Regions from separate parts of the Homo sapiens genome. Here all the other regions are linked to region 1. The links come from fine-mapping of genetic effects on gene expression. A gene starts in region 1. Each other region holds a variant in brackets. All regions are shown on one strand. Distances are from middle to middle. Region 1 holds the start of CARD8 (caspase recruitment domain family member 8). Region 2 overlaps ZNF114 (zinc finger protein 114). Region 3 overlaps CARD8 (caspase recruitment domain family member 8). Region 4 overlaps ELSPBP1 (epididymal sperm binding protein 1).

Region 1 (7,866 bases):
CTGGACCAGCATCAACATGGCCAGTCTCCTCTGCAGACACCGGCGGAGAGCCCAGCGTCTGCACAGCCCTAGCCTCTCTTCCCAGCCATCTCCTGAACACAGAGCCACCCATACCATCCTCCTGCTGCTTGGTTGCTTTGTGTGCTTTTATTGCTCAAACAACTTCATCACTCTTTATTTCTTTTATAAATCTGAGAAAAAATCAAGACTAGAGATGATCACTGGAATTATTTCATCATGCTACCCAACCATCTGCCCTTTTGTGCTAATAAAAAATAATAAAATTATTTCCTAATTTACCTCTTCCTCTCTAAGACAAGAATGATCAGCTCTCAGGGAGCATTCAATGGCTGATCTCAAACCCCATACTTTCTTCTGCAGCTGGGAAGTCTCCATGATGACTTTTGTGGAGAAAAAGTCATGCAGTTATTGAGCAATTGAATTAGGGCTAGTTTGAATTGAGGTGTATCATAAATTTAAAAAGCATTCAGGTTTTGAAGTCAATATAAATAACAGTATATAAATATTATCTTAATAACTTTCACATTGCTGACAAGTTTAAATTATGACATTTTGGGTAAAACGTATGTATATGTTTTGTTATGTTTACATATATATGCATATTTAAATAAAATACATATACACAAATATGTAAGTAAAACATATGTAAGAATATATATAATATATATAATTTTTTTTTTTTGAGACAGAGTCTTGCTCTGTCACCCAGGCTGGAGTATGCAGTGGTGTGATCTCAGCTCACTGCGGCCCCCACCTCCTGGATTCAAGCAATCCTCCCACTTCAGCCTTCCGAGTAGCTAGGATTATAGGTGTGCACCACCATGCCTGGCTAATTTTTTTGTATTTTTTAGTAGAGACAGAGTTTCCCCACGTTGGCCAGGCTGGTCTAGAACTCCTGACCTCAAGTGAACCGCCTGTGTCAGCCTCCAAAAGTGCTAGGATTGTAGGTGTGAGCCACCGCACTGGCCTTATCAGTATATACACACACACACACACACACACACACACATATGTGTATACATATACAACTACATAGGTATTTTTAAACTAACTGTATCTGCTTGTTTTTGCTTTTTTAAATGCAGTTGCTAGAAAATTTAATATACATTTGGGGCTTGGATTATATTTCTGTTAAACTGCACTGCTCTATGGCACTTCTTGTATTCATTCCACAAATACATTTTGCACATGTTCCTTATTCTTGGTACTATTTAATGGGTTGGACATACATCCATGATCTAAACAGATAAAACATAATAGCACAAGAGATTATACAGAATGTTTGTGGTACAGGAAAACGTATATGTACACATGATAGGAGCTAAAAAGAATAGGACTGGTTAAGAGAATGTGGTGTGTGAGAGTACAGGTGCAGGGAGCTGCAGTGACTGGGATTACAGGTATGCATCACCATGCCTGGCTAATTTTTGTATTTTTGTAGAGACGGGGTTTCACCAATTTGGCCAGGCTGGTCTCGAACTCCTGGCCTCACGTGATCCACCTGCCTCAGCCTCCCAAAGTGCTGTAATTACAGGTGTGAGCCACCGTGCCTGGCCAACATTTATCATTTTAAATACTCATCTGCAAAAATGTTTCCAAGTGGGGCCACTTCCCCACCCCTCATATGACAGTGGCAGTGATATACCATATACATGGTTATTAAAAAGAATCTGGAGCAACAATATGAATGTCAGACAAATTAGGCTTCAAGAGCATTTCCCTCCATCTTACAGGGGATAAACCCAAAGAAGTTATATTAAGATTCCAATAAAAGAATGCAAGATGACTATCTGTGTAAAAATGTAATCAATGGGGAGCAGGTGCACCTCCAATAATATTAGACAAAATATATTTTACCTAAACAGCATTACTAAGTATAAAGTAGATCACTTCAATAAGAATAACAATTTTAATTTTGTGTATACATATTCACACTTTCAATATGTATATAGTATACACGGGTAGAATGATAAACAGATATAGAATAATCCTCCACTCTTGTGGGAAATCTGTTCAATAGTCTTTCAGCAATTAACAGAATAACAGAGTATCAGTAAAGATATAAAAAATTGACCAAAGCAATTCATATTCTTGACTTAAGTGCCCTAGAATAACAACTCACACAGCCATTGAAGAATCCCCATCATCCTATCTCAAGCATAGAGGAAACACATAGCATACATATGTAGCCACATAGCAAACACAGAAATGACTATCAACAAAGTGGAAGAGTTTAATGCACAGATTAAGTTATCTGAATATATGTACAATGAGTTATAAATAATAAATAATTGAGCCAGGTGAAGTAGTACATGCCTGTAATCCCACCTACTTGGGAGGCTGAGGTAGGAGTTTGAGCCCAGGAGTTTGAGTCTGGTCTGGGCAGCATTGCAAGATCCCATCCCCCAAATAATAAATAAACTAACTAAGTAATCAATAATTGAATGAGAAAAGTTAGCTCATATTTCAATATGTTCAATCTTAGGATATATACTTCTAGGCAACCACTTAGTGACAAAAATTCTGTAGAAATCCATCATTGAAAGTTCATTATGTAAATAAATGTGAAGACTAGATAAGAACCACAGAACACAATGACATTGGAAAAAATGCCACAGTAATTCTTTGAAAAAAGAAATGCAGGCCTGGTGCGGTGGCTCATCCCTGTAATCCCAGCACTTTGGGAGGCCGAAGTGGGCAGATCACAAGTCAGGGGTTCGAGACCAGCCTGGCCAACATAGTGAAACCCCGTCTCTACTAAAAACACAAAAACAATTAGCTGGGTGTGGTGGTGGGCACCTGTAGTCGCAGCTACTCGGGAGGCTGAGGCAGGAGAGTGCTTTCAGAGAAACTTCTTGATCACAAGGGGAAATCTGAAAGTTGTCAGAACAAAATGGAGTCACTTATGTTAAGATAACCCTGACAAATAGAGCCAGGAAGGCCATGAAGAGAGGGCTCTTATCCTTGCATGCCTGAAGATGAAAAAGACTCTACAAAACCCACAACCTTACATAAAGGTCTTCACAACCTTAAAAAAATATATATTTCTGCAAGGAATGCTGCCCAGCAACTGCTGGTCCAACCTAGGACTAATGTCACCCTTGTTACTGATCTTTGTAGCCAAGGAAAATTCTGTTAAAACAATATGCAATCCTCCCCATTTCTGTCTTCCTTTATCTCCCTGAATATACACATAGTTTAATACGGCATGTCTATTCCCAATTGCAATGCTCTATTCCCAAATAAACATTGTTTCCGGCTGGGCGCAGTGGCTCACGCCTGTAATCCCAACACTTTGGGAGGCCAAGGCGGGCTGATCTCGAGGTCAAGAGACGGAGACCATCCTGGCCAACATGGTGAAACCCCGTCTCTACTAAAAAATAAAAAATTAGCTGGATGTGGTGGTGCACGCCTGTAGTCCCAGCTACTTGGGAGACTGAGGCACGAGAATCGCTTGAACCTGGGAGGCAGAGGTTGCAGTGAGCCAAGATCATGCCACTGTACTCCAGCCTAGCCACAGAGCGAGACTCCATCTCAAAAAGAAAAAAAAATTGTTTCCCTTAGGAAGCTTTCATATGTTTGTTAGTTAGGTTAACACTTCTAATAATTAAAGTTATACAGTTACAGTGTAAAATTATTAGTATTAACAACATAAACATTGGTATAAAAATTATTATTACAGAAATTAAAACAAATTGAGTGTGAGAGAGATTATTAAGACTGTCCAAGCCAAGTCACTGAAGTCATAAATTTAAGTTATGACAGGATGCCGAGCTTCCAGAGGGTTTTGTTTTTAACAAGGGAGGGGCCCTATTTCCCCTTCTGACACGCTCATATGAACTTCTCACTTTGTCGTACTCCTTCCTTGCTGACTAAGAGGAACAGAACACAGAGCAGCCTGGCGGTGTCCTACCAACAAGCCTCCGTTTCTCCTTCCTGTACACTAGGGCTCCTGAAACTCACCTGGTAAGCGCTCCAGAAAAGCAGCAGGTGGTGACTTTAGGGTAGGACGGGCCAAATGGGAGAATCCCCTTAGGTCGGTTTCTCTGGTTCTCAACTTCTTTTGAAATAACGCTCGCAGAGGAGGTGGGCTTTCTGAGAACTGAGGGAAGTAAGCTCTCAGGACTTCCGGTCGCCATGATGGCTGTGGGCAGTCAATGGGGTCAGTGCAAGCATCTGGGCCATCTTTAATGTGGGCAGGAAAAAAACACGATTACACTTACTTCTGCAGAGTTTATAATATCCTTGTTCATTATTTAAAATAAAATATCTAAGACATAGGTAATAGTATATTTTAAATAAAATTGAAGCAATATATGAAATTTCTCTGGAATTCATCCAGCCACTCTCAGCTGTTACCACTATCCAGAAACGTCTTAATCCGCCTGCATGATTTATGTATTTGGTTTGTATTTTAAATATCATTTTCTGTAATATTTAAAAGTTGTATTTGCTTGGTATCCTGCTATGCATTCTCATGCAATTTGATTTTTAATCAATATTACTTTTTTTTTTTTTTGAGATGAAGTCTCCGTCTGTCACCCAGGCTGGAGTGTAATGGAGCAATCTCGGCTCACTGCAACCTCTGCCTCCCAGGTTCAAGCGATTCTCTTGCCTCAGCCTCCCGAGTAGCTGGAATTATAGGTGCATGCCACCACGCTCGGCTAATTTTTTGTATTTTTAGTAAAGACGGAGTTTCACCATGTTGGTCAGGATGGTCTCCGTCTCTTGACCTCGAGATCAGCCCGCCTCGGCCTCCCAAAGTGCTGGGATTACAGGCGTGAGCCACTGTGCCCGGCCTTGGTTTCTAAATACTATTTTGAAGTATCTGTGGAGAAATGGTTACTTCGAGGGCTGGGGCAGGAATATATAAGATAACATTGGAACAAATTCTGACGCCAGAACATGAAGAAATATTTGAAAAAGGATGGGGCATATTGACTGAACACAGAAGACAAACATGCATGACCTCAGCCTAATCGTGAGAAAACATCAAAGAAATCCAAATTGATAAACATTCTGTAAAATAATTGGCCATGCTCAGCAAAAGTGTCACAATCACAAAAGACAAGGGAAGAATAAGAAACGGTCACAGCCTGGAGGAATCTAAGGACATAACAACTGAGTGCAATGTGAGATCCTCGATTCGATCTTGGAGAAGAAAGAGGACGTTAAGAGAAATATTGACAAAATTCAAATAAGGTCTGCACATTAGGTAATGGTAAGATACGTTGACATCAATTTCCTGGTTGGATACTTGTATTACATATACTATTATGTATATAATTATTATATTACAATTACATATACAGTTGTATATTATATATAATACAATAAATGTATATATATGATTATAATACAATAAATGTATATATACAGTTTTATATATAACAACTATTATACATATAATACAATTATATATATAGCTAACATCAGGATAGGCTGGTTGAGGATTTATATGAATCTTTGCTAATTTTGCATGTTTAAAATTATTTCAACATAAAAAAATTATATGGGTCATGTAGTTTTTTGTGCAGTTTAATTCTAGGCACCATAGTTTCTGTTTTAATGGGTGTATTTTCTTCTTTCAAGGAATTGGGATAGTCTGTTGTATTAAAAACCTATTCATTTTTGTACATTAAGATTCTTCTGGCCAGGCGCAATGGCTCAAGCCTATAATCCCAGCACTTGGGAACCTGAGGCAGGCAGATCACCTGAGGTCAGGAGTTCAAGACCAGCATGTCCAACATGGTGAAACCCCATCTCTACTAAAAATACAAAAAAAATTAGCCAGGCATGGTGGCACATGCCTGTAATCCCAGCTACTTGGGAGGCTGAGGAGGAGACTCACTAGAACTCAGGAAGCAGAGGTTGCAGTGAGCCAAGACTGCGCCACTGCACTCTGGCCTAAGCAACAGAGGGAGACTCCATCTCAAAAAAAAAAAAAGATTATTTCTCTAACTTACTGGTTTATCTTTTATAGCTTATTTCAGGTGATTTGTTGTGTTTGTCTATAGAGTAAAATAACATGTCTAATGAGTTATAATTTAATGTCCTTCCATTCAATCACTGTATTTCAAATTTATTCCAATATTTTGGAATAAGCTTCCAATATTTTAACTTAAATAGGGAAGGTCATACTTGGTATTTTCCTGACCTCAGCTGGAATGCCTTCATAGTGTTCACATGAACACATTTGGCCTGAGAGAGACTTATTATGCCGAGAATGTGTGTAACCCTTTTTACTTAGGAATTGTGGGTGGAGTTTTTCCCCCCGCCCAAGAATGATTGTTAATTTCCGTCCATCATTTTCCTTTGATTGTTCTTCATCTCGAAAACAAATAATAAAATAATAAAATAAATAAATAAAACTTACTGGTCTTCTCACCTATTTTCTTGCAGTGCCTTTAAGCAATGCTCTGCCAATATCTTTTTCTTAATTATTATGGAATGCATGGGACCGTTCCATGCCTGATTATATGCAGAATGTTCTTTCTACAAGTGAGTTTTTGTAGTATTTCTGTACTCTGCCATACTAGGGCATTTCTCTGTTTTCAAGGATCTCCCAACCACACCGCCTCTACCACATTTATCTCCTGCTCAGCCTCCACTCCAACTGCCCAGACCTCACAGCTCTTGTATTCAAACTCTATCGATAAATCACCGAGTATGAGGCTTTACTCACAGGAAATTACTCTTCTGGCACTTCCTGACTTCTTTATGTTTTCTCACTCTGCACTTCCTCCCTGTTCCTCCGCTATGCTTCACCCTGACTTAACACAGTTTTGTCAGCCAGTGAGAAACATGTGGATCTGTGAATTCTATCTGTCTCCTCGTTATTCTGAAAATGGAGTTTGCATGGACTTTTCCGTTCACCTTATTGCTTTCATTGATACTCAGTAATAGACAAGATAAACTGTTATTTCTCATTGCCTTGTTCATTTCAGAAGTACCAGGTAGAATTTTACAATTCTTGCCTTGATACATATTCCCAGTAATTGTTGAGTGATTTAATTGTATGTTGTCTTGATATTACTTTGGTCATATATTACATTATTTCTCATTTTTGAATATCTGGATTTACATAAATTCTGTGTAATTCAGGTTTGTATTTATCCAAGTTCTCAGAAACTACAACTGCTGTAATTGATCATAACTCTCCTAATACAGGTGTAACTAAAGTGAGAGATGCTTTTTGACTCATGAAAAAAAGAAGACTGTAGACCAAGTCTCAATAACTTCCACTTAATCCTATAGAAAGTTAGCCAAGATAATGTACACCTTCTTTAAGATTCTTATAAGGAAAAGATTCCATTTTGTTTCTTGAAATGAGGTATTGCTTTGTCGCCCAGACTGGAATGCAGCGGTGCCATCATAGCTCACTGCGACCTTAAACTCCTGGGCTCAAGGGATCCTCTCACTTCAGCCTCCCGAGTAGCTGGGACTACAGGCACAAACCACTGTGCCTGGCTTCATGAGAAAAAATTAAATATATAATGGTACTAGGTAAAATAATACTAAATAAGAAGTAATTTGAATGCATACTATATTAACTCTGGAATAACGATACTTAAGTAAAAGAAAAGTGTTCGTTACAACAAAGGGAAGCTTGTAGTTCAGAGGATAGCTAAATTAAATTTGTTGCAGGCTGTGAGAGACATAACAAACATAAACACATGAAATATGTAGATTTTTATATTTTTATTGAAAATTGGATAGAAATATTTGGTTTGTTCAGTTGGAACATGTGAGTTGATTATTATGCATATAAATAAACAGACATTCAGTGTAGGGGCCAGCCCTACAGGGTCTGTGGGTCTTTCTCCCGTTGTGCGGAGACGAGAG
Region 2 (7,866 bases), 28 kb after region 1:
ATTTGCCTGGTGTGGTGGTGCACGGCTGTCGTCCCAGCTACTTAAGAGGCTGAGGTGAGAGAATCGCTTGAGCCCAGGAGGTTGAGGCCACAATGAGGAGTGATCACTCCACTGCATTCCAGCCTGGGTGACAGAGTAAGACTGTCTCTAAAAATAATAATAAAGTAAAATAAAAAGAAAGTGTTTTTGTCTTAAGGAACTCAGGGTCTCACAGGGGACACTAGGCGTTTATGGAGCGGGCAGTGGCAGCATCTCCCGCAACTGTCATGACCTGCAGATGACAAGCAGTGGACTGAGACGTGCCCCACTCCAAATTTTTTTTTTTTTTTTTTTTTTGAGACGGAGTTTCACTCTTGTTGCCCAGGCTGGAGTGCAATGGCATGATCTCGGCTCACTGCAACCTCCGCCTTCCAGGTTCAAGTGATTCTCCTGCCTCAGCATCCCGAGTAGCTGGGATTACAGGCACCTGCCAGCACGCCCGGCTAATTTTTGTATTTTTAGTTGAGATGGGGTTTCTCCATGTTGGCCAGGCTGGTCTCGAACTCCTGACCTTAGGTGATCCGCCCACCTCGGCCTCCCAAAGTGCTGGGATTACAGGCACGAGCCACCATGCCCGGCCAGGGTTTAAGGAGTAGCCACCCCTCTGTGATAGTTTGTTATAACAGCCTGAACAGGCTAATGCATGAGAAAGACACACAGTTGGTCAACTGGTAGAGATTGAAGTCCGGTCGCGTGACTCAGGTACTCTTTTTCCTGAGACAGGGCCACAGGTGATGGTGTGTGCTGGCTGTCCCAGCTACTTGGGAGGCTGAGGTGGGAGGATCGCTTGAGCCCAGCAGTTCGAAGCTGCCGTGAGCTGCATTTGCACCACTGCACTCCAGCCTGGGTGACAGAGCAAGACCCTGTCTCAGAAGAAAGAGCACCTGAGTCATACGACCGGACGTCAGTCTCTACCAATCGACTGTACCTCTTCCTGTTGCATTAGGCTGTTCAGGCTGATGAAACTATCACAGATGGGGTGGCTTAAACAACAGACATTGATTTTCTCACAGTTCTGCAGGCTGGAAGTCCGAGATCAAAATAGCGGCAGAGTTGCTTCCTTCTGGAGGCTCCAAAAAAGAATTTGTTCCATGCTCTTACCTAGCTGCTGGTAGTCACTGGCGTCCTTGGCATTCCCTGGCTTGTGGACCCATCACTCCAGTCTCTGCCTCCCTCACCAAATGACATTCTTCCCTCTGTTTCCCTCCCTCTGTCCACATTTCCCCTTCTTTTTTTTTTTTTTTTTTTAATTTATATTTTGTTTGTTTTTTTGAGACAGGGTCTTGCTCTGTTGCCCAGGCTGGACTGCAGTGGGAGGATCATAGCTTATTGCAACCTCCACCTCCCAGGCTCAGGCAATCCTCCCTCCTCAGCCTCCCGGGTAGCTGAGACTACAGGCACCCGCCCACACTCACGGGTAATTTTTTTATTTTTTGTAGACGGGTTGTCACTGTGTTGCCCAAGCTGGTCTTGAACTCCTGGCCTCAAGCGATCGTCCCACCTCAACCTCCCAAAGTGCTGGGATTACAGGCATACGCCACTGCAGCTGGCCAGATTTCCTCTTCTTATAAGGACACCAGTCACTGGATTAGGGCCCACCCAACCCCCAGTACAACCTCATCTTTTTTTTTTTTTTTTTTTTTTGAGACAGTCTCACTTTGTAGCCCAGGCTGGAGTGCAGTGGTGTGATCTCGGCTCACTGCAACCTCCACCTCCCAGGTTCAAGCAGTTCTCTGCCTCAGCCTCCTGAGTAGCTGGGACTAAAGGCACCCGCCACCACCATGCCCAGCTAATTTTTTGTATTTTTAGTAGAGACGGGGTTTCACCATGCTGGCCAGGCTGGTCTCGAACTCCTGACCTTGTGATCCACCTGCCTCAGCCTCCCAAAGTGCTGGGATTACAGGTGTGAGCCACCGCGCCCGGCCACAACCTCATCTTAATTCATTGACATCTGCAAAGACTCTAGTTCACAAATCAGGTCACCTTTGCAGGTACCAAGGGTTAAGACCTCAACCTACCTTTTTCTGTGGAGAAAGGGGTCACAGTTCAAACTGATAACAGGACACCCCTCCGAGCCAAACTGCATGTGTTATTTTAGGACTCGGTGACCTTCGCAGACGTGGCTGTGAACTTCACCAAAGAGGAGTGGACCCTGCTGGACCCAGCTCAGAGGAATCTCTACAGAGACGTGATGCTGGAAAATTCTAGGAACTTGGCATTCATAGGTAAGGAGGCCCCCTTCCTGCACTTAGTCCGTGATGGGACCAGTGCTGGTTTGGAACCGTGTTCTGGGAAGTGCATTGGAAAATGGGAACTGGGTTAAATTCCAGAGACACAGCTGCTGCCCCCCAGGTAGTAGGTGTAGGGTTCACCATGAAACTGGAAGTCAGTTTGTTGCATTACTTTATTTATTTTATTTTATATTTTATTTTATTTTATTTTATTTTATTTATTTTTTGAGACAGGGTCTCACTCTATCTCCCAGGCTGGAGTGCAGCGGCATCATCTCAGCTCACTGCAACTTCCACCCCCCAGGTTCATGCAATTCTTCTGCCTTAGCCTCCCTAGTAGCTGGGAATACAGGTGCACACCACCACACCTGGCTAATTTTTGTTTGTATTTTTAGTAGAGGCAGATTTCACCACGTTGGCTAGGCTTGTCTTGAACTCCTGACCTCAAGTGATCCTCCCACCTCGGCCTCCGGAAGTGCTGGGATTACAGGCGTGAGCCACCACACCCAGCCTTTATTTTTCTTTTCATTAAGATGGGGTCTCACCCTGTCACCCAGGCTGGAGTGAAGTGGCACCATCTCGGCTCACTGCAACTTCCGCCTCCTGGGCTCAAGCAATTCTCCTGCCTCAGCCTCCTGAGTATCTGGGATTACAGGCATGCTCTACCACCCCCAGCTAATGCATTACATTTTTATTCTCTTCGTGATTGAACAGAATTTGGGGGATCCTTATGTAGGTGAACATGGTGCACAGGAAAAGGGTCGTTTTGAGCCCTTTTGGCAGAGTTTTAGTGCATTGATGAGAAAAGTAGAGGGACCACTGTTGCACTTCTATTCACACATCATCAGCTTCAGAACCCCAGCAAACCAAAGCCTGTGTCCATTTGACAGAAAGTCTCGGCACAGTTCCTTTATACCACATGCTTGCCCAGTGAGCAGGATTTCAACTAGGCAAACCCAGTCTGCCCTCTCATTTGGAGCAAGAAGTGGTCTGAAAACAGTGCAGGGCA[G/T]TTTTGTCCAGGCATTTATGCATCTCAGTACCAGGTAGATGTGAACATTACAGGACCAACAGGTTTGTAAGCCAGCAGCATGGTAACAGAGCAACAGGCTCGCCACTGAGACAGCAGGGTTTGCAACAGAGAAAAGAGAAAGTTGCATGATTACATGGTGCCAACCGAGGAGATGGGAGGAGACGCTCAAATTCTTCTCCCTGGGGGGTTCTGGGGTTTTTGTTTTTTTTTTGTTTTTGAGACTGTGTTTCACTCTTGTTGCCCAGGCTGGAGTGCAGTGGCGCGATCTCGGCTCACTGCAACCTCCACCTCCCGGGTTCAAGCAATTCTTCTGCCTCAGCCTCCCGAGTAGCTGGGATTATAGACATGCACCACCATACCTGGCTAATTTTTGTATTTTTAGTAGAGACGGGGTTTCACTGTGTTGGCCAGGCTTGTCTCAAACTCCTGACCTCAAGTGCTCCGCCCACCTCGGCCTCCCAAAGTGTTGGCATTACAGGCATGAGCCACTGCTCTCATTTTTAAGGGGATCATGGAGGATAAGGGACTGGAGAATTGGAGACGTTGATTGGTCAGAGGAAGGGGGATGAAATCATCGGGATGAGGAAAGTACATTCTTTGGTGCGTCAGTTTCTCACGGCATTCCTCAGATCAGTGAGCATAGTCATTTCATCAGAATGCAGGACCTGAAGGAATATCTCAAAGAGAAAACTTAATGTTTTATAATTTTCAAGTTGTTATCTACAGAGCAGCTAAGGAGACCTATAGGCCAGGCACAGTGGCTCACACCTGTAATCCTAGCACTTTGGGAGGCTGAGGCAGGAGGAGGATTACTTGAGGCCAGGAAGTCGAGACCAGCCCAGCCAACATGGCAAAACACTGTTCTTTTTGTCTTTAAAAACAATTTTTTTTTAATTAAAAGGAAAAAAAAAGAAAGAAAAAAACAGGCACTCTGTTGCCCAGGCTGGAGTGCAGTGGCTCAGTCTCAGCTCACTGCAATCTCTGCCTGCCGGATTCAAGTGATTCTCCTGCCTCAGCCCCCTGAGTAGCTGGGATTACAGGCACACGCCACCATGCCCAGCTAATTTTTCTATTTTTAGTAGAGACGGGGCTTCACCACATTGGCCAGGCTGGTCTCAAACGCCTGACCTCTGGTGATCCACCCACTTCAGCCTCTCAAAGTGCTGGGATTACAGGCGTGAGCCACTGTGCCTGTCCAAGCTTATGTTTTTTGACTTTTATCCATCCTCTCATATTTTCATTTTTCCCTGCTAAAGGCCTGTTCCTTTTCTCCTTAAAATTGCACATGGAGCCAGCTACTCGGGAGACTGAGGCAAGAGGATCACTTGATCCCAAGAGCTCAAGGCTGCAGTGTGCTGTGATCACACCTATGAATAGCCAGCCACTGCACTCCAGCACCTGGGCAACCTAGTGACACCCTCATCTCAAAAAAATAAAAATTTCACATGGACTCTCTGTCCAATTCTCTTCCACTTAGAATTCCTGATCGTTTCCTTGATCTCTGCAGAACTGTTCCTCAGTAACATGACACTCTCCATGTTGAACCCCTGACCTTACCGTCATCACATTCCTGACACTGCAGAATCTCTGATGTCTTTCTCTGCTTCCTTCCTCTTGCTTTCTTCCCCTTCACATTTTTATCATACATGTTGAGTGAACATTTAGAAAGAAATCCACACAGAGGCCTGGCGCGTTGGCTCATGCCTGTAATCCCAGCACTTTGGGAGGCTGAGGCAGGTGGATCACATGAGGCCAGGAATTCAAGACCAGCCTGGCCAACATGGTGAAACCCCATCTCAACTGAAAACACAAAAATTAGCCAGGCATGGTGGCACGCACCTGTAATCTCAGCTACTCAGGAAGCTGAGGCCAGAGAATTGCTTGAACCTGGGAGGCGGAGGTTGTAATGAGCCAAGATCATGCCACTGCACTCCAGCCTGGGCCACAGAGTAAGACTCTGTCTAAAGAAAAGAGAGAAAGACAGAGAGAACGAGAGAGAGAGAGAGGAAAGAAGGAAGGAAGGAAGGAGGAAGGAAGGAAGGGAAAGAAAGAGAAAAGAAAGAAAGGAAGGAAGGAAGGAAGAAAGAAAGGATGGAAGGAGCGAGGGAGGGAGGGAAAGAAAGAAAGAAAGAAAGAGAGAAATCCACACGGAGATTGCCTATGTCATCATCTCTAACCCACCTTTACTTTCAACAAAGAATTTAACTTTTGTGCCACTGTATTTCAGATTGGGCAACTCCATGTAAAACCAAAGACGCAACCCCTCAGCCGGATATTCTTCCTAAAAGAACATTTCCTGAAGCCAACAGAGTGTGTCTCACGAGCATCAGTTCCCAGCACTCCACATTAAGAGAAGACTGGAGATGCCCCAAAACAGAGGAACCACACAGGCAGGGGGTGAATAATGTGAAGCCACCTGCAGTTGCCCCTGAGAAAGATGAATCTCCTGTTAGCATTTGTGAAGATCATGAAATGAGGAACCACTCTAAACCTACCTGCAGGCTTGTGCCTTCACAGGGAGATTCCATAAGACAATGTATCCTAACACGTGACTCAAGTATTTTCAAGTATAATCCTGTCTTAAACGATAGTCAAAAAACACATGAAAACAACGAAGACGATGGAGTCTTGGGGTGGAACATTCAGTGGGTTCCGTGTGGGAGAAAAACAGAGCTGAAATCAAGCACATGGACTGGCAGTCAGAACACTGTGCATCATATACGTGATGAAATTGATACGGGGGCCAACAGGCACCAGCGGAATCCATTTGGAAAAGCTTTCCGTGAAGACGGATCCCTTAGGGCACACAACACTCATGGTCGAGAGAAAATGTATGATTTTACTCAGTGCGAGAACACCTCCAGAAATAACTCAATTCACGCCATGCAGATGCAGTTGTATACCGCAGAGACAAACAAGAAGGATTGTCAAACTGGGGCAACCTCTGCCAACGCTCCAAATTCCGGTTCACACAAGAGTCATTGCACTGGAGAGAAAACCCATAAATGCCCCGAATGTGGGAGAGCCTTTTTTTATCAGTCATTCCTTATGAGACATATGAAAATTCACACTGGAGAGAAACCGTATGAATGTGGGAAATGTGGGAAAGCCTTTAGATATTCCTTACACCTTAATAAACATTTAAGAAAGCATGTTGTGCAGAAGAAGCCCTACGAATGTGAAGAATGTGGGAAAGTCATTCGGGAGTCCTCAAAATATACACATATAAGGAGCCACACTGGAGAGAAACCCTATAAATGTAAGACATGTGGAAAAGACTTTGCAAAGTCGTCAGGACTTAAAAAACATCTTAAGACTCACAAAGATGAGAAGCCCTGTGAATGAAAGGAAGGTGGAAAATTTTTCATTAATTTTCTGACTGTACCAAACATGTGAGGAGGACATATTGGAAGGGAGCTCAAGGGGTTAGCATGAGTGAGAACATCTTCCCTGAACTCTCGTATCTTACAGAAATGTGAAAAAAAACCCTGTGAAGGTAAAGTCTACAGAAAGCCTTTCATCTTCATTCATCTTGAGTAGACATTTGTTCTCACCCTGGAGAGAAACTGCGAATCTAAAAGGAATATGACAAAGCCTTCAGCGTGGTCTCAAATTCATGGTTCATACAAGAACTCACACTGCAGAGACTCCTTACGGAAATAAAAAATGTAGGAAAGACCTGCCGGCCGCGGTGGCTCATGCCTGTAATCCCAGCACTTTGGGAGGCCGAGGCGGGCGGATCACGAGGTCAGGAGATCAAGACCATCCTGGCTAACACGGTGATACCCCGTCTCTACTAAAAATACAAAAAAAATTAGCCAGGCGTGGTGGCAGGTGCCTGTAGTCCCAGCTACTTGGGAGGCTGAGGTAGGAGAATGGTGTAAACCTGGGAGGTGGAGCTTGCAGTGAGCCGAGATGGAGCCACTGCACTCCAGCCTGGGGGAAAGAGCGAGACTCCGTCTCAAAAAAAAAAAAAAGTAGGAAAGACCTCTTTAAACACTTACCACTCATGTTGCATGTGAATCCACATCCTGAAGGGAGGCTACAACTGGAATAAAAATAAGAAAGCTTTCAAGGCCTGGTGCAGTGACTCACACCTGTAATCCTAGCACTTTGGGAGTCCAAGGTGGGGGATTGCTTGAGTCCAGGAGTTTGAGACCAGCCTGGGCAACATGGAGAAACCCCATCTCTACAAAAAAAAAAAAAAAAATGCAAAAATTAACCAGGAGTGGTAGCACATGCCTGTAGTCCCAGCTACCTGGGGAGCTGAGGCAGGAGGATCGCTTGAGCCTGGGAGCTTGAGGCAGCAGTGAGCTGTGTTTGCACCACTGCACTCCACCCTGGGTGACAAAGTGACACCCTGTCTCAAAAAAAAAAAGAAAGCTTTCAGGTCCAGCCTTTCACTTAGGCACAATGAGCGCACAGTAGGACTGAAACACTGTAAATGTTCATGATTTTCCAGTTTTTCCTTTCTAAAAAAAAAAATGCTACAAGATGAAGGATATCCCTCTTTGCACACTCCCAGCTCTGCCACATAAATGTTGGTATATAGCAGGTTCATTATAA
Region 3 (5,000 bases), 23 kb before region 1:
CCGCAGCAGGATGCCCATCAGAGAGAAGCTGGGGCTTTCCAGGACAGCATAGAAAGGCTCCACCCGGGCTGGATGCTCCAGGACCATCCCTTCATTCTTAAAATGGGCAACGAGAAACCAGGAGACGTCCACCTCACCTGCTGCAGGAGAACCACAACAGCAGTGAGACGGCACGCACCCCAGCGGCCCCCACAGCCTCCGCTCACCCCACATTACCTTGGAGGGAGATGAAGTGGGGGAGGTGGATTTCGGCGACAGCCTCCTCTGGCTCTGCAGTGACATCAAACAAGGGGCCGCCCACCAGCCACTGTTCATGGTGCTGCAGGTCCAGGGCCAGGTGCTGACTCCAGGAACCAAACGCAATCGTCACTGTGACCTCATCCCTTACCAGGAAGCCGAGGCCTGTGGCTGACCACAGATACCAGCCAGCAGTGGGGAACCAAACGCTGAAAGGAGCCAGAGTGATGTCATGACGGGAGAACCCCAGGACTTGGATTTAAGCAGCGATGTGCAGAGGGAGGTGGGATTTGAAGTGAGGCAAGGTTCAGGACCCATCTGCGACTTTCACTACATTAGAAAACGCTGGGGAGTTCATTAACCTCTCTGGGCCCCAATTTCTCTGCATTCTATATATGTTGAAATTAAAATACCAACTTCACAGTGCATGAAATAAACATATTATTGATGAAATTTTAGCTATCATAAGGGATGGAACCGATACGCTTCCTTTTGTATTTATATTTTTATTTATTTATTTATTTTGAGACAAAGTCTCGCTCTGTCTCCTAGGCTGCAGTGCAGTGGCGAGATCTCATCTCACTGCAACCTCTGCCCCCTGGGTTCAAGAGATTCTCCTTTCTCAGCCTCCTGATTAGCTGGGACTACACGCGGGTGCCACCACGCCTGACTAATTTTTGTATTTTTAGTAGAGACAGGGTTTCGTCATGTTGGCCAGGCTGGTCTCGAACTCCTGACCTTGTGATCCGCCCTCCTCCACCTCCCAAAGTGCCGAGATTACAGGCCTGAGCCACCACGCCTGGCCTACACACTTCCTTTATATCAGAGTGGTTTTCAAATCATCAGCATCTTCCATTCTTACCTGTATCTGTTTGTGCTCTTATCAATCAACTCAACATCCACATTTCCTTCAGGCCCCAGAAACTGACGATTTTTATAATCTTCTTCGATCTCAAAACAGACTTTAGAAGCATAAGAGGAAACTATTTGATTCTCTTCTGAGCAAATGTCTCCTGAAAAGAAAATACTAGACATGTAAGAGGTAAAGGGTTGGAAGAGGCATGGCCTGAAGGACTCCTGGAGGCTGAATTGCACAGGTGCTGTTGGGATACAGATATCGAATGAGAGCTGAGAGTGACCAGAATATGCAGTTTCGCTTCTTTGAATCCAGACAAAGAAAGGCACAAGAATGTTCCTTGTCATGACTAAACGTATACACCAAATTCCATAAGACTTTCTGGGAAGCCAGGCTGGACAGCTTTGGTGGGAGGCACCATTTGCTGAGGACTGGAACCAATGCACCTACATTTCTACTGGTCCGAAATAGCAGAAGACACTTTCTGCTGGTGAGGAAAGTCCAGGTCAGAAAAGTATCGAACTCCAAAGATGCAGAGGCGAAAGAGCGTGCATCCTTCCTAGGCCCTGCTGCTGTCCCCAGCCACCAGGACCACCCACTGACTCCCCTGAGCATTTCCATGCCCCAGCAGTGACAGGCTTACATGTCCCCATTTAAACTGCACAGTGCACTGTGGCAAAGGTAAGGGAAAGCACTCCTGATCTGCACAAAAGACTCTAAATTGTCTTCTTCACATAAAATCACAGAACATTTCCATCAATCCACACGCCCTTCACTCCTCTCCCTATTAGCCCATTACCTGAATCTTGTCCCTCTGAAGATTCCTGCTCTTCTGATACACTGGAGGTTGGGATCCCCATGTTACAAAAAGATGAAAAACATCAAGAATCAGTTGATGAAGATGAAGACGATGTTATTGAAAACTAGAGCTGCACTGTCCCGTAGAGTAGCCGCTACCCGGATATGCTATTTAAATTTGTATGAATTAAACTTAGGTAAACTTTAGTTTCTCAGTTGCACTATCCATATTTCAAGTGCTCAACAGCTACATATCACTCACGGCTATAACACTGTGTAGCAGAGAATGGAACACTCCCGTCATCACAGAAAGTTCTCTTAGACTGGGCGGATCTAGACTATCAAGAAATAGAAGACATTTTGAATGAAGATATTTTTATCCACATTTATAAATAATAGAGATAACACACTCCCTTGAGCCAAATGTGTCTTGACATCTCTCCTTCTTCTCTTTGTATTATGCCCACGTTCAATGTGGACACAGCCAGATTCTCTGGCTTAAATTGATTGCTCCGATTGGTATCATACGATGTCGGAATCAAAGACTGAAGCAGTAATTCACCAATGCGTAAAATGTATGCATTTATATTCCAAGGTAATTCCAAACTTGACCACACCTGGGAAGCTTTAAAAACCACCCAATACCAGGTCACAGCCCACATCAATTGAATCAGAAGTCTGGAGGTGGCACCAAAGCATCGGCGCTTTCAAAGCCTCACAGGTGATTCCAATATTAGCCAATATGGGTTCTATGACATACAGCGTGAGCCAATGGTTCGTCATGCCTCTGGAGAGAAACCTGCCCTAACACAGGTGATACCTTCTGGAGCAAGGCAACCAACTCCATCAAATTCTCTGCCTTTGATCCATTCCTTGAGATATCTGTTTATTTCGACGTGAAAGAGACCAGCAGAGAAACTGACACGTGGATTAGGTTTAAAAAGAACAGGTACCTAGAGAAGTGGGATGAAGAGAAAGGCTTTACAGCGCTTTTCTC[G/A]GAAGGATTCTGTGGGCAAGCCAAGCATGGAGAGACCCCTGGGCTGACATCCTAAGACTGGTTGCTGTCTGCGGCTACACATTTTGCTATGGATTCGGGTAGCTACAGGCAAAGCAGCAAGAGTAAACATGCCATTTTATATTCTCTTTCCTGGTGCATGTGCATGCTGGAGTCTGCCTGCTGAGGAGGGGTTTAGAAAGTGGGAGGAACCCAGCGCTGAACTGCAGACAGCGCATCCCAGATCATGAGAGCTGACGGTTCCATTTTCAGGGCTTTTGCAACCAAGTTGTTCAACACAACCATTAGTCTAAATTAAATGATACAAGCTAACATTTAAATAAATCATATTAAAAACAAAAGTAATACATATTAAAACATACCAATTTCCAGTCATTTTTCTACACTTTTCAGCAGTCTATGCCCTTGAGGTTATTTATGTCTCTTGTATCTGTGTGGTGAAAGCAGGATGACAGACTTCTGCATGTGTTCTTTCAACTCCCTCATCAGGGGCTTCACGTTGGTAGTTTGAAATCTGCCATGATGGGGATATTCAACCCTTGGAAATTGGCATACCCTACAAATAGACGCATTCTCCCCTCCCCGGTGTTAAACCTCAGGACCCCACTGTGGCCTTCAGCCTCATCATCAGCCAGTTTCCTAGAGAATTAGGTTGGTTTTATGTATTGAGTAACAGCTTAACCAATAACCCACTGGTCTTCGATTGCATTGCTCATTGCCTTTTTGTGTATAGGTTCTCTAGACACCTCCATGGAAGAAAACCTCATTGCTTAAGGTTTGTTTCAAAAATTTCTGGATTCATTGCTAGTATTGCATAAGCTCATTCATTCTCCCCTGAGTTCGATGAAAAACACCCAAATTCCTCTAATTCTCATGTTCCTCTGTGATATTGAGACACAGCGTCCAATAGTTTTCCAACGGAATAGCTTTTCTTACCTGGGAATGTCCCCCCCAGATAGTTGACACTCAGGAACAGCACGGAACAATAATGGCTCTGCCTCTGTCTCATCATCTTCTTGGAAAAAATGTGAGATGTCACAAAGGGTCTCAGAAACACAGGGTAGCTCCCTGTATACCCTGGAAAACAACAACAGAATTTTTACTATGAATATAAGGTAGGTGCCTGATGATAGCATAGGCTGTGCAGGAAGATTTTATGTTAATAGCCATAGACTCAATATTTTATCTTAGGGAAGTCATTCCTCAGGCCCCTACGACTCCATCTCACCTCTCAGACTCCCATGACTCTTTCTTACATCTCATTATGTTAAATTTAACTGGCTCTCTGTTTCCCACTATATGCTGCTCTTTCCATCCTAGGAAGCAGACGTCAGTCAGTTCTCAACATCTAGCATTTGCCACAAACATTGGTTTCATAATAGGTCAACAAGTATGTTGACCTATATAACCTTGCTAAGAATTTTAGGGAAAGGATGAGATTCCTAATTTGTAGTCTCCCTTCATCCATAATTGGTGCCCGAGAGAATAGGACCCTAAAATGATTGGGATTGCAGGGCATTAGTGAGATTGGGCATGTTTTATAAGAACCCATGGAACAGTTATCTCCTCTTCTCCCTTCTGCCTGCAAATGGTGAGAGGGGTTGCATAAAGCAACAAAAATGCTCACAGAAAAAGAAAATTATGGATATTGTACACACTTTCTTTTCCCATCAAGGATCCTTATTCAGATATGGAACATGAGAGTCCTATGCTAGATCCTTTTCTCTTCTTCATTTTTGAAGGCTTGGTGCTGTCCTCCTATGGCTGGCAGGAATCAAGATTGAGGTTAGGAGTGATGGAGTGTCCTTTATGCCAAGATATTCAATGGCCAATATGACAGCCACTAGCCACACCTGCCTATTTACATTTAGTTTTAAATTGTTAAATGTGAAAATCAGTTCCTCCTTTGAAGTAGCCATATTTCAAGTGCTCAAAAGCCACACGTGGCTCTTGCCTGCCACCATGTAAGACATGCCTTTGCTCCTCCTTTGACTTCTGCCATGATGGTGAGGCCTCCCCAGCCACGTGAAACTAAAAGAATTTTTCTGGGTAATGGACATAGGCATAGGACGTCTGGCAACAAAATCTGCTTTG
Region 4 (7,866 bases), 250 kb before region 1:
TGATTTTTTTTCTTTTCCTTATTTATTTATTTAATAGACATGGTGTCCCACTCTGTTGTCCAGGCTGGTCTCAAATTCCTGGTCTCAAGTGATCCTCCCACCTCAGCCTCCCAAAGTGCTGGGATTACAGGTGTGAGCCACTGATGTGATATTTTGATACATGCAGACAGTAATGATCAAATCAGGGTATTTAGGATATCCATTACTTTCAACATTTATCATTTCTTTGTGTTGGGAATATTGCAACTCTTCTCTTCTAGGTATATACATAATTAAATTGTTTTTAAAGACATAAGTCACACATCTGTGATAAAAACTTAATTGGAAAGAAGTCTCCTATTTACCCCTGGTTCCCACTTCCAGAGGTGATTGATATCAGTGGCTTCTCACATGCCCGCTCAGGAAAACACTCTGTACATGTATGTGCATGGGGAACACAGATGCAGTGTCTTGCTGAGAACTACAAGGCTCTGACCTAGGTTTGCTAGTGTCACCATCTTTTCGTTCCTCTGCACTTACTCCAAAATTGGTAGTCAGCAGCTTCCAGTAAAATCTCAAGGATGGCCTGGGCGCGGTAGCTCAATCCTGTAATCCCAGCACTTAGGGGGGCTGAGGTGTGTGGATCATGAGGTCTGGAGTTCAAGATCAGCCTGGCCAAGATGGTGAAACCCCGTCTCTACTAAAAATACAAAAATTAGCCGGGTGCAGTGGCAGGCGCCTGTAATACCAGCTACTCGGGAGGCTGAGGCAGGAGAATCGCTTGAACCGGGGGACAGAGGTTGCAGTGAGCTTAGATCGTGCCACTACACTCTAGCCTGAGTGACAGAGTGAGACTCCATCTCAAAAAAAAGAAAAAAAATCAATCAATCAATCAATCAATCTCAGGGATTGGGCTAATGAGCCCGGGCATGCGCATTAAGAGACAAAATGGCAGAGTCCGGGGCGCGGTGGCTCACGCCTGTAATCCCAGCACTTTGGGAGGCCGAGGCGGGCGGATCACGAGGTCAGGAGATCGAGACCATCCTGGCTAACACAGTGAAACCCCGTCTTTACTAAAAATACAAAAAAATCAGCCGAGCGTGGTGGTGGGCGCCTGTAGTCCCAGCTACGCGGGAGGCTGAGGCAGGAGAATGGCGTGGACCCGGGAGGCGGAGCTTGCAGTGAGCCGAGATCGCGCCACTGCATTCCAGCCTGGGTGACAGAGCCAGACTCCGTCTCAAAAAAAAAAAAAAAAAAAATGCAGAGTCCAACCTTTTGGGGGACATTTCACTGGAAAGGGAAGAAAGTCTCAGACGAGCTTGTGTACAAGTCCAGTAAACACACCGCGCATGCTCACTTCCCAAGCCTAAAGGAGGCACTGCGCATGCGGGAGGCCCACCCTAAGGGGAAAAATGAAGGGTCCAGCCATGTGGCCCTCCCTTCTGTGCGTCAGAACATGTCACATTGTTTCCCACATCAGCAGCTTTGCCCTCACTGATCCCTGTGCCTGGAATGCTTGTTCCTCACACTGTGTGTGGCTGACTCTAGGTTTTGGTTCAAACATCACCTGCTCAGAGAGGCCTTCCCTGACCACCAAAGGAGACATCTGTCAGGCATGATTGTTTACATTCCCCTGTTTATTATTTTTTTTCATTGCACTTTTCATATTCTGAAATGATTTTGGTTTTGGTTACTGTGGTAGAATACACATAAGATTATGATTTTAACTATTTTAAAGTGCACAATTTAGTGGCGACAAGCACATTCACAATGTTGCACCATCATCACCATTATCTATTTCCAGGAACTTGTCACCACCCCATACTGAAAGCCTCATTTCTTTTTTTTTTTTTTTTTTTGAGAAAGAGTCTCGCTCTGCCACCCAGGCTGGAATGCAGTGGTGTGATCTCGGCTCACAGCAACCTCCACTTCCTGGCTTCAAACAATTCTGGTGCCTTAGCCTATGGAATAGTTGGGATTACAGGCATGTGTCACCACGCCTGGCTAATTTTTGTATTTTTAGTAGAGATGGGGTTCAACATGTTGGCCAGGCTGGTCTTGAACTCCTGGCCTCAAGTGATCCACCCACCTCGGCCTCCCAAAGTGCTGGGATTACAGGCGTGAGCCACCACCCTGGTCAGAAAACCTCATTTGTATTTTGTCTTTCCCACCCTAGTAAAATATTAGCCTCATGCAAGAAGGAATTTCACCTGTCCAGTCTACCGACAACTCCACATAGTAGGAGGAACACAACAAATATTTATCACATACGTGATTTTTTTTTTTTTTTTAGGAAATGGGGTCTCGCTCTGTCATTCAGGCTGGAGTGCAGTGGTGCAATCATAGCTCACTGCAGCCTCAATATCCTGGGCTCAAGTGATCCTTCCCCCTCAGCCTCCTGAGTAGCTGGGACTACAGGTGTGCACCATCTTGCTCAACTAATTTTTAATATTTTGTAGAGAAGGAGGGGGTCTCACTACGTTGCACAAGCTGGTCTTGAACTCCTGAACACAAGTGATCCTCCCACCTTGGCCTCCCAAAGTGCTGGGATTACAGGCCTGAGCCCGCACGCCCAGCCTATGTTTACCATGATTATTTGTTGAGCACTCAGCATGTGCCAAGAACTCTGCTTACATTGTATCATTTCATTCTTCCCCCACCCCGGCCGCCCCCCAAAAATCCTGCCCCCTCCCCCATCCCCCATAGATGGAGTCTCACTCTGCCCAGGCTGTAATGCAGTGAGCCAAGACTGGCACGATCTTGGCTCAGTGCAACCTCTGCCTCCTGGGTTCAAGCAATTCTCCTGCCTCAGTCTCCTGAGTAGCTGGGATTACAAGTGCGTGCCACCACGCCCAGCTAATTTTTGTATTTTTAGTAGAGACGTGGTTTCACTATGTTGGTCAAGCTGGTCTCTAACTCATGACCTTGTGATTCGCCCTCCTCGGCCTCCCAAAGTGCCGGGATTACATTCATTTCATTATTAAACAGTCCTACGGGATAGATTTCAGTTGTCTCATATATAGAAAAGAAAGCTGAGAGTCAAATACATTCCATAACACTCTGAAGGTCACACGGATGAGCAGAAATTCGTATACAGGCTACCCTTTTCCGAAGCCACAACCACTTACGTATTTCTCCATTGTGGAGATGAGGACTCCGAGCTGTGCGTGTGTCCATGGAGCCACACAGCTGGCTTGAGAGGGAGCCTAAGGTTAGACACCTTTGCTCCGTACCTGTTCCAGGATGGCTGATTCAAATGGGACAGAGATAATGAAAATGATAACGATTAATATTTACAAAGCACGTTTTATGTGGCAGGCAGGGTTTTCAGCCCCCTGTGTGTGCATTAGTTTTCTGCAGTGGCTGTAACAAATCCCCACACACCTAACCGACTTGACACACATTTGTTCTCTTACAGTTCTGTGAGTCAGTCTCACTGGGGCTAAGATCAGGGTACCAGCCAGGCTGCATTCCTTCTGGAGGCTGTAGGGAAGAATCCGCTTCCTGGCTTCTTCCAGCTTCTAAAGGTCGCCTGCATTCTTTGGCTCGTGGCCTCTTCCTGGCATAACTCTAACCTCTGCTTTCTGTTGTCACACCTGGTTTTCTGACTCTCCTGCCTCTCTCTCT[G/GTT]TTTTTTTTTTTTTTGACACAGAGTCTCGCTCTGTTGACAGGCTGGAGTGTGGTGGTGCAATCTTGGCTCACTGCAACCTCTAACTCCCTGGTTCAAGAGATTCTCCTGCCTCAGCCTCCTGAGTAGCTGGGATTACAGCTGAGTAGCTGGGATTACACCACACCCAGCTAATTTTTTTTTTTTTTGTAGTAGAGACGTGGTTTCACCATGTTGGCCAGCATGGTCTCAATCTCCTGACCTCATGATCCTTGTGATCCACCCGCCTCGGCATCCCACCACCTCTCTTTTATAAGGGCCCTTGTGATGACATTGGGTCCATCTGGGGAATCCCGGATCATCTTCCCATCTCAAGATCCTTAGCTTTATGACATCTGCAAAGTCTTCCACACTCCTTTTTTTGAGACAGGGTCTGGCTCTGTCACCCAGGCTGGATCATAGCTCACTGCAGCCTCAAAACCCTGGGTGCAAGTGATCCTCCTGCCTCAGCCTCTTGAGTAGACAGGACTACAGGCATGTGCCACCATGCTAGTTTTCTTTCTTTTTTTTTTTAAGATTGTTTGTAGATAGGGGTCTCACTGTGTTACCTAGGCTGATCTCGACCTCCTGGGCTCAACCAGTCCTCCCACCTCAGCCTCTCGAATAGCTAGGACTGCAGGCATGTGCCACCATGCTGGCTGTTTTTTTTTAATTTTAAGATTTTTTGTAGATACGAGGTCTCACTATGTTGCCCAGGCTGATCTCAAACTCCTGGGCTTGAGTGATCCTCCTGCGTCAGCTTCCTGAAGTGCTGGGATGACAATTATGAGTTACCATGACTGGCCCGCAAAATCCACTGTGCCATGCAACCTAGCATATTCGTGGACTCTAGGAATTAGGACGTGGACAGATTTGTGTTGGGTGGGTATTATTCTACCCACCAAGCGTCTATGAACGACACTAACATTCTGTAGCAGCAACAGTGATCACCATCCCTTCCACTGTGCGGATGAGGACTGAGACCCAGGAAACTCAGTACTTTGTTGGGGTCACAAAGGTAGTAAGAGGCAAAGCATGGAAACCCAGGTGGTTGGGCTCCAGGGCAGGCTCTTTCTGGCATTATAACCTTCTGCCTGTCTGGATCTTAGCATCTAAGCCAAAAATTATTCATTTGAATCTTGAGGAGAAGGGTCAAAATGAAAGCTTGAGGTTAATGAACCAATTAAGGTGTAGGAATTGGGGTTTTGGGCCAGGCAGGAATATAAGCATGACACTGCAGGTAGTCAAGGGTTTAGAGGAGGTGGCAAAATTTGTCTCTCCCCCATCTCCATAAATAGTAATTAAAACATCTCGCTTGGGCCGGGCGCAGTGGCTCATGCCTGTAATCCCAGCACTTTGGGAGGCCCAGGTAAGCAGATCACTTGGGGTCAGGAGTTCAAAACCAACCTGGCCAACACGGTGAAACCGTGTCTCTACTAAAAAGACAAAAAAATAGCTGAGCGTGATGGCTCGTGCCTGTAATCCCAGTGACTCAGGAGGCCGAGGCAAGAGAATTGCTTGAACCGGGGAGGCGGAGGTTGCAGTGAGCTAAGATCGTGCCACTGCACTCCAGCTTGGGGTGCAGAGCAAGACTTCATCTCAAAAACAAACAAAAATTCTGGCTTGTATGCTGTCTTCATAAATAGTAATGAAAATATCTGGCTTGTATGCCCCCTCTGACATTTACACAGTGCTTTCCAGCATCTGCTGCATGTATAAGATCCCAAGGTGGAGTTTATTCTCCCTCATTTGATGATTGGAAAAACTATCCCCATATTTTCCTGTGGTTTGACTCCATAGCCACAGCAACCCTTTTTCCGACCAGCCAAGAAACAGCAGCGGTGGCAGGATGCTGGTCCCAACCACCCCGGGGCTCAGGACAGAGGGTTCTCCAAGCATCTGAACCTGCCAGTGCCCAAAGCATAACTTGGTCCTCACCTGGATGTTCCAGACGAGACATGGGTGTCTGGCTATTAGGGCTTGTTTTACAGTTGAATAATTATTTTGAATGGCCCCTAAAATATTTTCTATGAATATCCATAACTTGGTCTGTGCAGAGTCATAAACCTTCCAGACCATCAGTTGCTACCAATTCTTCGAATTTGCACAGAACTCTTTATTGCACAAAGAAGCAAGCCATGCAAATAGCTGGGGTCAAGGGATCATCCCAGGCAAAGAGAAGAGCGAGTGCAAAGGCCTTGAGGTGGCTTCTGCAGGAAACAACTAAAAGGCAGATCGAGGGAGGGGAAGGAAGATAAGAAATGAGTTTGAGGGAAGGCACAGTATGGACTAGGGATTGTATTCTAAAGGTGATGGAGGATTTTGAATGAATAAATGCCACCCCTGCTCTTTTTTTTTTTTTTTTTGATGGAGTCTTGCTCTGTCACCCAGGCTGGAGTGCAGTGGCACGATCTCGGCTCACTGCAACCTCCGCCTCCTGGGTTCAAGTGATTCTCCTTCCTCAGCCTCCTGAGTAGCTGGGACTACAGGCACCTGCTACCACGCCCAGCTAATTTTTTTTTTTTTTGTATTTTTAGTAGAGATGGAGTTTCACCATGTTGGCCAGGCTGGTCTCGAACACCTGACCTCAGACGATCTGCCCACCTCATCCTCCCAAAGTGCTGGAATTATAGGCATGAGCTACCGTGTCCGGCCCACTCCTCCTCACTTTAACCCCTCCCGTGGCTTCTGGTTGCTTCTATTCTATTCTATTCTATTCTATTCTATTCTATTCTATTCTATTCTATTCTATTCTATTCTATTCTATTCTTTTGAGACAGTCTTCCTCTGTTGCCCAGGCTGGAGTGCAGTGGTATGATCTCGGCTCACAGCAACCTCTGCCTCCTGGGTTCAAGCGATTTTCCTGGCTCAGCCTCCCGAGTAGCTGGAATTACAGGCACGCACCATCATGTGGAGGGAATTTTTGTACTTTTAGTAGAGATGAGGTTTTACCATGTTGACCAGGCTGGTCATGAACTCCTGACCTCAGATGATCTGCCCGCCTCGGCCTCCCAAGGTGCTGGGATTACAGGCATGAGCCACCACACCTGGCCTTCTGGTTGCATTTAGAATCTGAGGGAGGCTCTACAGGGTCCGGTCCCATCCATCTCACCATGCATCTCTGTGGCCTTGCTCCTCCTCACTTGTTGTAGAGACGAGGTGTCACTGTGTGGCCCAGGCTGGTCTCAAACTCCTAAGCTTAAGCCATCCTCCTGCTCAGCCTCCCAAAACACTGGGATTATAGGCATGAGCCACTGTGCCCAGCCTGGGCCTTAGCCATGCGGGTCCCACTTGCTCCTTGAGCACATCTAGCTTTTTCCATCTCAGGCAGTTTCCACGTCGGCTTCTCCTGCCTGGATGTATCCCCCACCCCCATACCTCCAGCTCCTCTCACGTCTCCCTCCTCCATCTGTTCCTCCAGGTGTCAGCTTACCTGTCATTTCTCAGAGCACCCTCCCCTCACCTCTCAATCAAAAGTGACCTTGTCCTAGTTGTTCCTGAGACTCGTCCACAGCAATGATCACAGCGAAGAGTTGTATTTGTTTCTGGTTTCTTCGCTTCATATCTGTCTCCTTGGTTGACTCTCAGCCCCACGAAGGCAGGGCCTATGCCTGCTTTACCCACTGCTGCATACTCATCGTGTAGCCCTGGCCCCACATCTTTTAAATGCTCAATAAATACTCATTCCTGAGTGGATGCATAAAGCATGCATCAGGAAAGGGCCCATACTGGGCACAGTGGCTCTTGCCTGTAATCCCAGTGCTTAGGAGGCTACGCAGGAGGATGGCTTGGGCTCAGGAGTTTGAGACCAGCCTGGGCAACATAGCAAGACCTCGTCTCTACAAACAATAATAATAGTTTAAAAATTAGCTGGGTGTGGTGATGCGTGCCTGTAGTCCCAGCCACTTGGGAGGCTGAGGTGGGAGGATCACTTGATGGGAGATGGAGGCTGTAGTGAGCCATGATGGCGCCACTGCACTGCAGCCTGGGTGACAGAGCAAGACCCTGTCTCAAAAAAAAAAAGAAAAGAAAAAAGAAAAAAACAAAAAGAGAAAAAGAGCTCAGCCTTGTAGAGGAGAGAGGCTGGAGGCTGCATATCAGTGAGGCAACAGGACAACAGTTGAATAGTTGAGAAGAGAAATGAAAAAGGCCTTCCTTTAGTCTTTAACAGCAGAGGCAGGAAAAGCGGATAGATTCAGGAGCTCCAGAAAGTAGAACCAACTGACTGATAGAACACAGCAAGA

What was found.
Region 2: its variant is fine-mapped to the expression of CARD8 in whole blood (Lepik 2017, PIP 0.95).
Region 3: its variant is fine-mapped to the expression of CARD8 in blood mononuclear cells (TOPMed, PIP above 0.99). The same link has a PIP of 0.9 or more in tibial nerve and whole blood.
Region 4: its variant is fine-mapped to the expression of CARD8 in monocytes after R848 (Quach 2016, PIP 0.95).

The regions. Positions count from the first base shown.
Region 1 is chr19:48,251,808-48,259,673 of GRCh38, forward strand. CARD8 (caspase recruitment domain family member 8) reads right to left here and starts at 4,105. Exons shown (of 14, transcript NM_001184900.3): 1 at 3,985-4,105. It overlaps CARD8-AS1 (CARD8 antisense RNA 1), which reads left to right and starts at 3,868. Exons shown (of 2, transcript NR_040599.1): 1 at 3,868-3,987; 2 at 4,544-6,387. It also overlaps the pseudogene VN1R97P. RefSeq lists an enhancer at 3,974-4,213.
Region 2 is chr19:48,280,234-48,288,099 of GRCh38, forward strand. It overlaps ZNF114 (zinc finger protein 114), which reads left to right. Exons shown (of 6, transcript NM_153608.4): 5 at 2,138-2,264; 6 at 5,528-7,375. The coding sequence ends at 6,645. Among named protein-coding and RNA genes, the nearest start is that of ZNF114-AS1, 12 kb to the left of the region's middle. The variant G/T (reference allele first, on the strand shown) is at 3,280.
Region 3 is chr19:48,230,561-48,235,560 of GRCh38, forward strand. CARD8 (caspase recruitment domain family member 8) reads right to left here. Exons shown (of 14, transcript NM_001184900.3): 6 at 3,843-3,983; 7 at 1,893-1,933; 8 at 1,100-1,250; 9 at 217-446; 10 at 1-140. Among named protein-coding and RNA genes, the nearest start is that of CARD8-AS1, 23 kb to the right of the region's middle. The variant G/A (reference allele first, on the strand shown) is at 2,889.
Region 4 is chr19:47,997,569-48,005,434 of GRCh38, forward strand. The region is part of intron 1 of ELSPBP1 (epididymal sperm binding protein 1); the gene reads left to right. Among named protein-coding and RNA genes, the nearest start is that of ELSPBP1, 6.9 kb to the left of the region's middle. The variant G/GTT (reference allele first, on the strand shown) is at 3,607.